Homo sapiens: one gene and its partner. The protein of the gene in region 2 interacts with the protein of the main gene of each other region in a biochemical or structural test. Each region holds a gene or a part of one and is shown on either strand. Other genes may lie near its edges.

Region 1 (7,027 bases), on a different chromosome or scaffold from region 2:
ACTTCCTTCAGGGACTACAGAGCCTAGACTTTGTGCATACCATGGGAACCATGACCCGAAATAACAGTCCACAGACCAACAACTGAGTTCAGCAAGCTGGCAGGGGCAGACCCAAGCTTTCTCTAGGGAAAAAACATCTCCCACTATTAATCAGAGTTTAGGGAAATTAGATCGGAGTGGGACAGCTTAGGTGGTAAAACTCATTTTTGATTCAAGCATATTTCTTTAAAAATTCTATATTCCTATTATGATCACTTACAATATAAACTTCACAAAAAGGGGTGATTTTAAGTATGATGCACTGAAGTAAAGAGCTCTGAACTAGAGCCAAGAGTCCTGTTTAACACTTGTTTTGTCCAATATGGTAGCCACTACCTACACATAGCTCTTGAAAACTTGAAATGTGATTACACTAAACTGAGACATATTGTAAGTAAAAAATGCATACCAGAGTTCAAAGACTTAGTACAAAATCAGTATAAAATACCTTGTTAATAATTTTTATACTGAATTAGCTGGGAATGGTGCCAGGCACCTGTAATCCCAGCTACTCGGGAGGCCGAGGCAGGGAACTGCTTGAACCTGGGAGGCGGAGGTTGCAGTGAGCCGGGATCGCGCCACTGCACTCCAGCCTGGGCAACAGAGTGAGACTCCATCTCAAAAATAAAAATAAAAACAAAAAATAACTTTATACTGATGACATGCTGAAATAACAGGCAAATCTATAGAGACAAAAAGTAGATTAGTACTCACCAGGGGCTGAGGGGAAGGGAGAATAGGAATTGACTGCTATTAAGTACATAGTTTCTTTTGGTGGTAATGAAAATGTTCTAAAATAAGATAATGATATTGGTTGCTCATCTCTGTGGATATACATTTTAAAGGGGTTAATTTTATGGTATGTGAATTACAGCTCAATAATGCTGTTATTTTAAAAATTACTTTCACCTGTTTCTTTTTTAAATAGGGCTACTAGAAAATTTTAAATTACATATGGCTCACATTATATTTCTACTGGCTAGCACTGGCCTATACCATTTGCCTAGCTTAGTGTCTTTCGACAAATCACTTCTATCTGGACCTATTTCTAACATAATTTCCATTATTACTAATTTTAGAACTGTAAAATGTCATCAATATCCTTATGAGATGTATTACTCTTATTGTTTTATTTCACAAAACTTCATATGAAGTGTATGAAAACTAACAGAGGTTTTCATTCACAACGTTTACCTCCCAACTTAATTTTTCCCAGAAGGACCTATTTTTCAACTCAAATTCTCCTACTCCATGGGTTCTCAGGGATCCTGACAGCCTTTTATTCTGGGGAGAGATAGGTTAATACCTTGGAAACACTTTAACAGGTCATGGGCAAGCTAAATATTAACTGTCCTCACCTCAATGGCCTGGGGAACCACACATCTTCGAGGTCCATGAGGAACTCCTAACTGGCCAAAGGAGTTGGATCCACATGATAGAACTTGACCATTTTCTGCAAAATACAAATACTTAAATTGCAAATCTATGAAGTAAGATGTCTGTGACCAATGGGTAAATGCTGCAGGGTGAGAGATGCAAAGGGGATGAGGGGAAGTGCTTCAGTGCATTCAGACCATATTCCCTGCTTTTATTCCTCTAGGAATGAAAACACTGGGCACCAGGTTAAGCACTCTACACAGATTGTCTATTCTATTCTCTCATTAATAACAGATTATCTGTGTAGAACACTTAACTCAGTGCCTCGTATTGGGATGGGAGGATAGTAATTTTTCATTTTTCATGTTTCCATGTGACAAAATTTCCATTAGTAAAACAACACTCCAGCTTTTCTCCCTGCCCTTCCCCATCCTCACTGCTTTCTAGGGGACAGCGGTCATGTAACCAACTGGTGAGTTTAGGAGATGGGACAGGACATGTGTGGCTTGGCACCTCCCTCTCAGTCATTCTAGGCTGACACATAGGAAGCATTTCCCTGTGGGGAAAGCCTAGAGATTTGGGGGTAAGTTTGGACCAGAAGAATATTAGGACCACTGGCCTCATAATTAATACTGTCCTCCAATTTAGCCTTTACCAGTGAAAAGCCAATAGTTTTTAATCTCCAATACTGACTTCTCTGTGCTTTTCTCACAACTGGCTCCAAATGTGAGCAGGAAAGAGCATTATCTACTGACTCCTTACAATCCAAAACATAGGCTCACAATAAACACCTTATAAATGATAGTTATTGTTTAGATTCTAATAATCACCATCAAATTCAACACATATTACAGAACCCCTCCACAGAGGAGGATGGTGACACTTGAGCAGGGTTTTAAAGCTGGGATTCGAGTCCATCAGATAGACAAGAGGGGCTGGTCCAGACAGACAGAAGAACATATACTGCTTGGTATGACCAGAAAGAAAAGTATGAGGAGTGTGGAGAATAAGAGACACAGCACAAAGATAGCTAGGGAACAGTTACAGAAGGCCAACGCTAAAAAGCTAGGAATCTGAGCTATGTCTGGGAGAATCCACAAGGGTTTATGACAGGAGAGTGACAGAAGATGCCCTTGCCAAAGGACCGTGGCAAAGAGGGAGCCTGGTCAGAAACCACAGATGGTCCTTTAAATCCAGAATGGCCAGCTAGACAGAGCAAAGCTGAACAGAGAGGTCAAAACTGCTTCAAGGGAACAGACGTCAGCTGACAAGGTAACTACTGCTGGCTGTTCCCAAGTGCATTACTCTAATAACCCTCTGGCCATATCCTATCCTGCTACCTGGCTTCACAAAGACCAAACAGATCTGCCTAACACATTTAGAAAAAAAAAAATCCCACAGTGTGAAAAAGCTGCCATCACTGCTTTGGCAACCACTATTGCCTCATATTCTCCTACCACATTCCCTGTAAGTAACCCTCTGCTGCCACTGCTGGCCACTGGCCAGCTACCCCAAGCACACAGCTATCATGAACTTTTGGGACAGGAAGTGGCCACCAAAGGTGATCTAGTCTATTCCCTACTCTCTGACAAAAGTTTTCCACCCCAATCCCAGTCTCCTTTACCGTTAAACTCTCCTTAGAAAAGGTAGTCCACAACTTTCCTTGACAACCAGAGGGAAAATTTGTGTGTGCTTTTTATTTATTTTTATTTATTCTGAGATGGATTATTGCTCTGTTGCTCAGGCTGGGGTGCAGTGGCGCAATCTCAGTTCACTGCAACCTCCACCTCCCAGGATCAAGTGATTCGCCTGCCTCGGCCTCCCAAATAGCTGGGACTACAGAGTAGCTGGGACTATAGGCATGGGGTACCACGCCTGGCTAATTTTTGTATTTTTAGTAGAGACGGGGTTTTACCATGTTGGCCAGGGTGGTCTCGAACTCCTGACCTCAAGTGATACACCTGCCTTGGCCTCCCAAAGTGCTGGAATTACAATTGTGAGCCACCGCACCAGGCCTTATGTGTGCTTTTTAAACACAAAGAGGCTTTCATTTAATCTGCAGTCACCATCATCATACTGTTCTCACCCAAAGCCTTTGTGGTGACAAAAATCTACCTAGGAGTGAACTCACCTGTGAGCATAATCGTAAAATCCCAGCCACAGGCCACCTGTTGGATGGGACAGCCAAAGAGGGATTTGCAGGGGGTAAAATATGGGATATCCTCTGTGTGACCAAGCCCCAGTTGCCCATCTTTGTTCAGGCCACAAACAAAGAGGTCTCCTCCATCTGCAAAATATAAAGGCATCAGTGATAGCGTGCACAGGAAAAAACACAACTGCAAAATGAACAAAAAGATTTCACTAATTATTTGGACTCTCAGACCAATAACTTTTTTTGCCATCCAAGTTAATAAGCTGTGTATGTTCATGTATTCTGGAGCCAAACAACACAAGGCCAAGGGCCTCAAACTAATACCTACAGAGAAACTTCAAGTCTTGGCGCAGTGGTCAATCAATCACCAAACTGAGCATCTACTGGAACAAAAAGCCAACAACATTTATTCAACATTGAGAACGTGCCAGGTACTGTTTTAAGAGCTTTTTGTGCAGAGCGGACTTATCCTTTAGGCACAGTGTCTAGGGCCCACAATGCTTTCAGAGGCCCACAGAGTGGCTTAATTTTTAGTTATTTTTAAATGAGAAAAAGATAATATAGTAACAATGCATATATAACACTAAATCTGGAGTGGATTCTATTAATATCCATCTTTATACCAACACAGTTGTAAAATATAATTTTTTTCTTTACAAAGGAAGAGGTCCATAAAGGGAAAAGCACCAACGACCCATGACAGTCGGAATGGAGCCCTGCTAACTCACTGGTTCTCTTCACCCACCATTATTATCCTCATGTAACAGATTCAGAAACTGTGGCTATTTGCCCAAGGCCACATAGATAATAAGTCACAGAACCAGGATCTGAACCCAGAGATTTGATTCCAGAGCTCATGTTCTCAACCAGATGCAATATGCCCCCCTTTACAACATTGTAGCACTTGTACTACTTGTTAAGTGCTATCCTAGATACAGTAAGGGAAGATTAAGGGGAACACACAGTTTTTGCTCTCAAGGAATATCCAATCTAATTACAAAGACTTCTAATTCCTATGGTGTAAAATATACATTGTAACTCTGCCACTACTTTGCCTTGTGATGTTAAGCAATCAGTGTTCCTTTCTGAGTTTCATTTGTATAATGGAGGGGGTGGGGGAAAGGGGTGGCCTAGAAGATCTCTGAAGTCCTTCTAGCCCTGAAAATCTAGGATCTTCTGATGGTAATTTGGCTCTTTCACAAAAATGTTTCACAAAAATACATTATTTTCCTCTGCAAAATACAAAAGGCTGAAAGATGGCAATATCATATCCAGGGGAAAACGTCTAAATAAGAAAATGAGTGACTATCTACTTTTGAAGGAAATTACCTGTGACAACTGCAGAGTGGCCCCCTCCTCCTGTGATCCTCCTGACACTCCTGGGTTTACAGAAGTCATTCAGTTGCTGGGGCAACAGCACATCTTCCTTATGGCCGAGGCCAAGTTGCCCATAGCTATTTGCACCCTAGGGATGAATAAGCCAAGGATGAAAAAGTGTGGGAACCACAACTGTCAATGTCTATTTACCTGTCTCTGTCTCTCTCACCCTGACGTATCTCTCAGACCCTGTAACAGATGAGATTTATTAGGCTCATTCTTTTTTAAAAAAAAATTTTTAGCTCCTTCACGGCAAATACTCACAGCACTGTTTATTCAAATATATAATAACAAGCACCAGAAAACAACAGGTAACACTGTCTCCCCACCCCTGATCTGTAATCCCATTAGAAAGAGACTCATGACCATAACAGTGGAGGAAATTCATGTCCAGGAAAGTTCCTAGGTAGGCACCCTGGCAGGCTTAATTTACTGGGGCAAAGGACAAATGCCCTGCTTGGCCTCCTGCAGCAGCTGAAGAAACCACACTTTTTTCTACCTCAGGCCCCAGAAGGCAAAGCAGCAATGCTAGCCATGGCTGAAGGGGACATGAGTCCTATGAGGTCCTTGGCCTAGCCCAACCCTCTGGAGGTAATGGGGTAAAATGGCCTTTCCTCTTAGAATGGCCAGGAAAAGAGAGGCCATCTCCTAAATCAAGGTTCTTCTGACTGAGAACAAGACAGCCTCTTGAGGAGGAGGGGCTTCTCTTCTCTAGAGAGAGTTCTGGGCTACGAGTCGTTGGCAGGTGTATCTCGTATCTCTCCTTACCCCCTCCTCCTGCACCCATGCCACCTCACTGCTTTCCCTAGCTGAACTTCAGCCCCCAAATGAGAACACTATCCAGCGTGTTTCAAATAAATTATAAATATGGACACAGAATCCAAACAAAGTTCCAGGAGAAGCTGCTCACAGACCCCTACAGGGTCCAACCTGAAGAAAAATGAAGGTCATTCCTTTGTTATCTGTGTCTCTGGAGCTGTGGGCAAAACTGTCTCCCCTTGTCCTTGAGTAACCACGGGAACAGCTCAGGACAGAGAGAGTTTCAGACTTAGAAACACTCTTACCCCATCTCCTTTCTTCCCTCCTCAAATCCCTTCCCCAAAATCTGAAAAGAAAAATAATAATAATTCGCTCACCAGAAGGACTCTGGAGCATTTGGGAATGTAAATCTTACCCTTCCTTTGTCAAGTGGGAAACTGACCAAAGAGGAAATGACCTGTTAGGCTCATTCTTAACGGCTGTTATATGCTCCCATATTTAGATGGAGGCCCCATCCTCAGAACACCATGATTTCGATATGAGAAGAGTCCTAGGCATCCACAACTCAGCCAGTAATATTCCTCATCTTTCCCTTCTTATGCTCCAGCCCCCAGGTACTGCCTTTTGGAGACAGCACAGGGGTTCCTTCTGATAAAAGCTAACTACCTAGGGAAGCTAAGGAAAGAAAAAAATGAGAGAGAAATGGCATCAAAATGGGAGGGCAACATCCTGGAATTAGTTCTTGTTTCTCCTCCCCACACCCATGATGGGAAAACCAACAATGACTCTGGAATCAAAGCTGGCTAAGGATTTCTTGCCTTAAAGCAAGGCACGTCATTATTTCATTTGTACAGTGAAAGAGGCTGGCAATGATCTCTAAAGCCCTTTCCAAGTACAGTGCTATGTGACTCCAAGATTCACATGGTGAGATTCCAGTAAGGGGACAGATTTCCCCTTGACAGGCAATATGTCTATTATTATTATTATTATACAAAAAGGGTCCATAATCCCTAATCTGAAATGCTTACAGTCAGATGTATTTCAGATTCAGAATTTTACAGCTTTTAGAAAAGTAATACAGTACATATGTCATATATACTGATGCAAGGTCCAGGGACAGCAGCCCATAAGCAAAACAATAATATTTCTGCATTACAAAGTACAAATATTCATAAGAAGTGGCCAAAGACTATAAATGGCCTTATGTCCAGTAAGTTTTGGGTTTTCAGAGCTTTTTGTATTCAGAATTGAAGACAAGGGATTGTGGACCTGCAGAGAGAATCTTACTAAGATTTCAGAAATCTTTATAATTTATTCAAGTAC
Region 2 (7,027 bases):
TCCACTAGAAATGCACTCAATGTGCTTCAGCGATTTAAGTTTCTTTTCAACCTTCCTCTAAATATTGAAAGGAATATTCAAAAGGTAGAGTACATGTTTATTTATTTACATATGGTTGTAGATGTCATACATTTTTAAGATTTTTTAAGATGTTTTTTATATTAACCAAATGTCTTCATTTTGCATTACTGACAGTTTTCAAAATGTTTCTTTATTTTAAAGGGTGATTATGATGTGGTTATTAATGATTATGAAAAGGCCAAGTCACTTTTTGGGAAAACGGAGGTGCAAGTTTTCAAGAAATGTAAGATTCATGTATTACTTTTAGATCTTCTCCTTTCCTTTTATAGGAAGAATGTGGAATGTGTTCTGCAAAGAATGTTATATGAGTTTTTAGTTTTTGTTTATATGAGGCTCTCTTTACAATGTAAAGCAATTACTTCAGAAATAACAGTATGACTTTTCTTATTTGATACGCAGTGAAAATGAGCAACCACGACTCTAGGTTGTTCGCCTGAGACGTTCTCTGCCGTTTGTTAACCATCACGCTGTTAGAAAGTCTTAGTTTACTGGAAGGAATCAATGACAAGTATTTTCTAGAGATGGAAACCTACATTTTAATCTTCCCGTCTTCAGAGAGACCCATAGACTGAAGAATTCCAACCTCCTTTAAAGGAAGCTCAGCAACTTTTGAAGTTATGTCTAATGCCAGAGTTACAGTCCACCAGGAGAAATATCACAGGGCCTTATTAAATTTAAAAATGAAATCTGTAAGGACCCAGAAAACTAAATTTATTTTTTTATTGTGGTAAAATATACATGCAGTGAAATGTACAGACCTCACATGTTAGAGGTCAGTGAGTTTTGACAAATATGTACACCCTTGTAACCTACATCGGAGATAGTGTTCTGATCACTCTAGACACGGCCCTGGTGCCTCTTAGCCCTCACCCCACAAAAGCAACTACTATTCTGCTTTTTGAAATTTGATATTAAATTTTCATTCTGTAAATCTTGTGTATTCTTTTCTTTTTAAATAGATTATGCTGAAGTAGAAACAAGGATTGAAGCTTTAAGAGAATTACTTCTGGATAAATTGCTTGAGACACCATCAACTTTACATGACCAAAAACGTTACATAAGGTAAATCTTCTGCAAACATTTTGTTGAATCACATGTATCTGTTTGGTACTGTATGCATCTTGTAACCCTTAAGGCTAACTTGAGGGACTTTAGGAGATTGATGAAATGGTGAAGGGGAAGACAAATAGCAGAAATTTAGGGTTATCTGGCGTAGGACATCAAAATTCTTTTGAATACTAATAGATTTGGGAGTAGTTATGGAGTTACTCACTTTTTGAGAAAACTCTGCCATTTTCGGGAAAGGAAAAGTAGTCTCAACCTCTTCCTCCTGCTGAGCAAAGGGGTACCTTGCCTAGTGGGATGGTGTGGGTACCCATAATCTGTGAAGGAGGGGCTCCCTGCATGGCTTAAAGCAGAATACTGTCACACACTGGGTGGGAAATGCATTATGCCACAAGAATGTGCTGCTGCTTAACAGCACAGTAAGTTCTGGAAGGTTTTAACCTTGAATAGCTTTCTGATTTCCAAGCCTTTAGTGGTCAGTGAAAGAGAAATAAAGTCACTAAGTGAGCATACTTTTTAAAAAATTGCAGTAATATTGGGCCGGGCACCGTGGCTCATGCCTGTAATCCCAGCACAGCACTTTGGGAGGCTGAGGCGGGCGGATCACTAGGTCAGGAGTTTGAGACCAGCCTGACCAATGTGGTGAAACCCCATCTCTACTAAAAATACAAAAATCAGCCTGGCATGGTGATGTGCGCCTGTAATCCCAGCTACTCAGGAGGCTGAGGCAGGAGAATCGCTTGAACCCGGGAGGCAGAGGTTGCAGTGAACCGAGATCTCACACCACTGCACTCCAGCCTGGGCAACAGAGTGAGACTCTGTCTTAAAAAAAAAAATTTGCAGTGATATTAAGAGAGGTGAATTTCACAGGATATGAAGAGAAGGCCTTAGAGAGAAACAGTATCACATAATGGGAACTAGCTGTTAACTTTGGGCAACCGACTTGAGTTCTATTTTTCGGTTTCTTCATCTGAAATGGACATGGTAATCAAATCTGCATCTCAGGATAGTTGCAAAGATAATCAGAAATACATTTAAGGGTTTAATACCTCACCCGGCACATAAAAAGTAGTCAGTAAATTTTATGTACATGTAGTTTATGTCAGGGTTTGGAGATAAAGCATATAAATTTTAAGTTTTTTATATCTGTGATTAAAAATATTAACTTCATTTTCTGCTAGGATTTTTTGAGTATGGCCTTTGTTCTCAGAATAAATTATTTTCCAAATTTAATGGTTTTTCCACTTGAATTAGTGAAGTTTATTGACTATTCAGTGGTTGTAAAATGACAGACTATGTATTTATGAATTTAGCTGTGGTCCCCATGTGACCTTTGAAAATAATGTCTCAGGAACAGACACAGTGGCCCAGACCTGTGATCCCAGCACTTTGGGAGGCCAAGGCAGAAGGATTGTTTGAGTCTAAGAGTTCAAGACTAGCCTGGGCAATATAGCAAAACCTGGTCTCTGCAAAAAATCAAAAATTAGCCAGATGCGGGGATGCATGCCTGTAGACCCAGCCACTCAGGAGCCTGAGGCAGTAGGATCTCTTGAGCCCAGGAGTTCGAGACTGCACTGAGATGTGATCGTACCACTGCACTCGAGCCTGGGTGACAGCAAGATCCTGTCTCTGAAAAGAAAAGACTGTCTTGAAAAGAGCGTCTGGCCTGAAAGCTGCTGTGTGTGCAAGTGTGAACGGGGGAAAAGATCCGCACCTGGACCTGTGTCCTAGTGATGAGGCGTACGGCGGGAGTATGAGCCGTCGTCATTGGCAGCACACTAGTATTGCCCAGGAGGAAGCAAGCAGAGGCAGTGGCGGTGGGATGAAGAGAGGGTGCTGTGTTTGCATGCTGCCACCCCTGCACGTGTGCAGCATGCTCAGGCGCTGTGCGGGATGTGTTCTACATGTCCTCTCTAATCCTGATCACCACCATGAAAGGACGCTTGTGCGGTGCCCATTGTACAGGTGAAAACACGGAAGCTTGCCCAGCACACACAGTGACCCGGGGGACGGGACGCCTGTTTGGCTTCAGAGCCCACTCTTGTTTCTCTCTAAGCTGCCTCCATAAGAAAGAATGTATATAGGGGATTTTCCTGGTTTGTAGAATCCTAGAAATGTAAAGCTGGAAATAAACCACACATTTGTCATCCAACTGCTTTATTTTCTACCTAGAAAGCGACAGAGTTGCAGGGAGGTTGAGCGTAGTGTCCAGGACACGCAGCTGGGTAGCCTCAGACGTCCTGAGGCTGCTGTTTCCTGCCCTGCTCCTTCACTGCGTGTGCTTTGTATATTTCTGGCCTGTTTACACTTGTTATGTTAAACTTGCCTATAGTAGTGTGTTAAATCTTGTTGAGTGTACAAATTCTTTATGTTGTGGGTTACCATCTATATGGATAACTCATGTGCAGTTTTTATGAGTATATAACTTACTGGATATCGTTTAAAAGGTGGTAGTGCCAAAAAAGATTCTTTTAAGGAGCCTTTTAACTACGATTTTTCCTGTCATCTTAAAGGCAAAAGAGCAAAAATATAAACAAGTCAACAATAGTTTATGTATTTGTTAATGATTATTTTATTTACGATGCTTTGAGAAAATACTGAGCAATTGTTACCTTTTTAAATGAAATTTTTAGTCGCTAAGAAATAGAAAAATAAGATCAGAACCAGGTCAAATACCTGTTGGACTTTGAAATTTATGAGCATCAAGTAGGAATAGAGATAGCTTTATCATGAACAAAAATGTATTAGTTTTCTTACATAATCCAGATTATGCATAGTAGAGGGGAAAATCAGATTACCACTATATTGTCTTACTGTTCACAATTTTTTCTAATATCATTCACTATTTTATCTAATTTAAACCTTCCCTATTCTTCTCCCTCTCCTTATTTCTATCTTGATGTTGGCAGGAAGCAAAGCTCTGCATATTCCTTTCCACAGCAGTGTGATCTTATCCCTGGTAGCTGTGAGAAGATCATGTCAGAATATGACTAAAAACTTCCTTTATTCTTAAATTTTAAAATACTGAGCCTGTGTTAATCATAATTAACATTCTTTACATTGCTTTTGAATCTAAAAAGCCTTTTTAAAGTGTTCTTAATATGCAGTTTTAAAAGAAATGGCGATAACATGTATCATTCTAAACAGAGTTTTGAAATGTAACTACTTATTTTTAGCTGCATACTGAAAGGAAACAAGAAACTTATTTGAAGAGCCCAGCACAAGTTGTCATGCTTTTGAACTGAGTCTAGAATTTCTAAAAGAACAACTTTATCTTGCTTTGTAAAACTTTTATAAACTCCTTTACTTTAATACCCGTTAATAAGATGATAGAAAAAGTCTTTTGTTATTAGGTTTTGCAAGGACACAGTCAACATTTTAAAGAGACGTATAATGTAAAAAGCCACTAAGCAAAGCTTATTGATTCCTCTTGCTGTACTCCTGGAGAAAGAACCCTTGTACGGAACTGTCTACACTCCTATTCAGTAATTTAAACATTAAAAGGAACACCGTCCCTAAAAGAGTATCTCTTTATTTTACTACTAACACCAAATCTGAGGGCTACGTGAGTGAAAGTGTTAGGAGAAAGCGTTGCAGAGGTGTTGGGAGGCAAAACAAGCCTATTTAGGGAGAACGCTGAAATGCATCATCCCCAGCAAGAAAGCATAGAATCACGTTCTTTGGGAAGAAAGACACAGTGTACTATTTGTTATATTTATCGTTCAGGTAATAAAAGAAGAAAGCCTTGTGTGAGAGAAAGAATCAGACTGCATTTTGGAATCTGAAATGAATCCCCTGTGCCAAGCTAAATGTAACTTGTTAGATTGTAGTTTTCTTCTCAGGATACTATTCTCATTTATGAGGAGGAGTGCTGGTGACTTCTTAATCTGAGTAAAGCTCTTCCTTCTAATTGACCTGCCACTTTCTCAGCACAGAGACACATCCTGTTTGCAACCTGTAGGTGGTCACAAGGGGGAGGAGATGGCAGCTCTCAGCCACCTCTGGGCAGCCTGAGTGTGGCCCGTCTGCAGATGCCTGGATATCCGGCTCCCCACAGCACCCAGTCCCTCCCCATCAGCTGGGAATGTCAGTGTTCTCAGCATTTTATTTGTTGCTAACATATTACAAAGTGGATTTGTTTCTCCTCTGATTGGCTGCTGATTGAGATACCTGAGTAACACACACTCACTACTGGAAGAATGGGCTGGAAGCATGGGTGCACCCCTGAGGGATTGAGGTCTGGCCCAAGGTCAGCCTGGAGCCATTGATGATGATTTACCACTGAACAAAAACCTCTAACCCAGAGACAAAGAATGGCATATGGCTTAACAACAGTTTTAAGACAATAAATTCATTTGGACATGCTTTTGGAGTTGATTTAATTGGATTTAGCTTGCTATATTTATATATTTTGTGAGGGCTGAGGGCCAAATCTTAAATAATATTTGACAGAAATTTTTCTATGGAAGTAAATGGTCTCTATGGATTTGGGTGTTTTATAGACAAAGACTTGATATATTTTAAGAATATTTAGAAACTAAGAAAAACACCGAACTATACTATATTTCCTAGAGAAATATTTTCTCAGTCGTGAGTGTGGACTTTAGAGGTGAGTGTTGTCACCAAATCTCTTCACAGTTCGGTTAGCCCTCATTTAGCTAGTTTTAGAAAGCGGTGCCATACTGCCATCTCGTGGCCATATTTCATATCAGAAAGGAATTAAAAAACATCTGAAATTTTAAAAGTATTTGCCCAGTATCTGCTGGCTCCCACCTGTGTCTAATATAATGACTCTGAACTAAGTAGAAAAACTCCTGTGAACTAAATATAAATATAAAGAAAAATGCTCATCAGGTAGATAGGATCACTGCAAATTGTCCTTATCTTTTTACAAAGAGCTGTTTTTAATAGTTTTATCATTTATATGAAAAAATTTTAAAGCTCTGCTGTTTATTTTTTTATTTTTTGTTTGCTTGTTTGTTTGTTTGGAGATGGCGTCTCACTCTGTCGCCCAGGCTGCAGTACAGTGGTGAGATCTCAGCTCATTGCAACCTCTGCCTCTCGGGTTCAAGCGATTCTCCTGCCTCAGCCGCCCGAGTAGCTGAGATTACAGGCTTGCACCAACACACTTGGCTAATTTTTGTATTTTTTTTTAGTAGCGACGGGGTTTCAGCACGTTGGCCAGGCTGGTCTTGAACTGCTGACCTCAGGTGATCCATCCACCTCAGCCTCCCAAAGTGCTGGGATTACAGGCAGGAGCCATCTCACCTAGCCAAGAAATTTGAATATATTTCATTGAGAATTAAATATTAAAGACTAATATTTGACAGGGCACAAGACTAATTGATAAAATTTTAGCCTTTAAAAAGTAATGATTTTAAAATATGCCAGCATTTCCCTTTGGCCTCAACCTTGGACTTGCTTTTTCAGGTACCTGTCTGACCTTCATGCGTCTGGTGACCCTGCTTGGCAATGCATTGGAGCCCAACACAAGTGGATCCTTCAGCTCATGCACAGTTGCAAAGAGGGCTACGTGAAAGATCTGAAAGGCAAGGATTTCTCTTCCAATGTGTTGTGTGATTCCTTCATGTCATTTTGATGCATTCTGGGAATGTTTAATGATGAAGGCACTGACTACCTAATTTACTTGGTATCTCTTATTATTGTCTTTTGCTTGTTTTGTGGTTTTTTTGGCCACTGGTTAGCATTGTACTAATGAAAAGGGACAACTCTTTTATCATGTCTGTTTTTGCGATTGGTGGACAGCGTTGACGTTTCGGGGCAGGCAGCGTGATGCCGAGGAGGTGACATTGGTCTTTGGTAACTATCAGTCTGCACATCGTCTCGTCAGGTGTATGTTGAGTCCTGCTCTGTGCCAGGC

The links. The genes of interacting proteins can lie anywhere in the genome.
Region 1: the proteins of EXOC2 (region 2) and SERGEF form a complex in vitro, tested with the Homo sapiens proteins (one study listed by BioGRID).

What each region holds. Positions count from the first base shown.
Region 1 is NC_000011.10:18,003,044-18,010,070, forward strand, and holds part of SERGEF (secretion-regulating guanine nucleotide exchange factor), read right to left. Parts: intron 5,034-7,027; coding exon 4,898-5,033; intron 3,704-4,897; coding exon 3,548-3,703; intron 1,493-3,547; coding exon 1,398-1,492; intron 1-1,397. UniProt on the Homo sapiens protein: Probable guanine nucleotide exchange factor (GEF), which may be involved in the secretion process.
Region 2 is NC_000006.12:592,137-599,163, reverse strand, and holds part of EXOC2 (exocyst complex component 2), read left to right. Parts: coding exon 1-84; intron 85-222; coding exon 223-304; intron 305-1,040; coding exon 1,041-1,143; intron 1,144-6,576; coding exon 6,577-6,695; intron 6,696-7,027. UniProt on the Homo sapiens protein: Component of the exocyst complex involved in the docking of exocytic vesicles with fusion sites on the plasma membrane.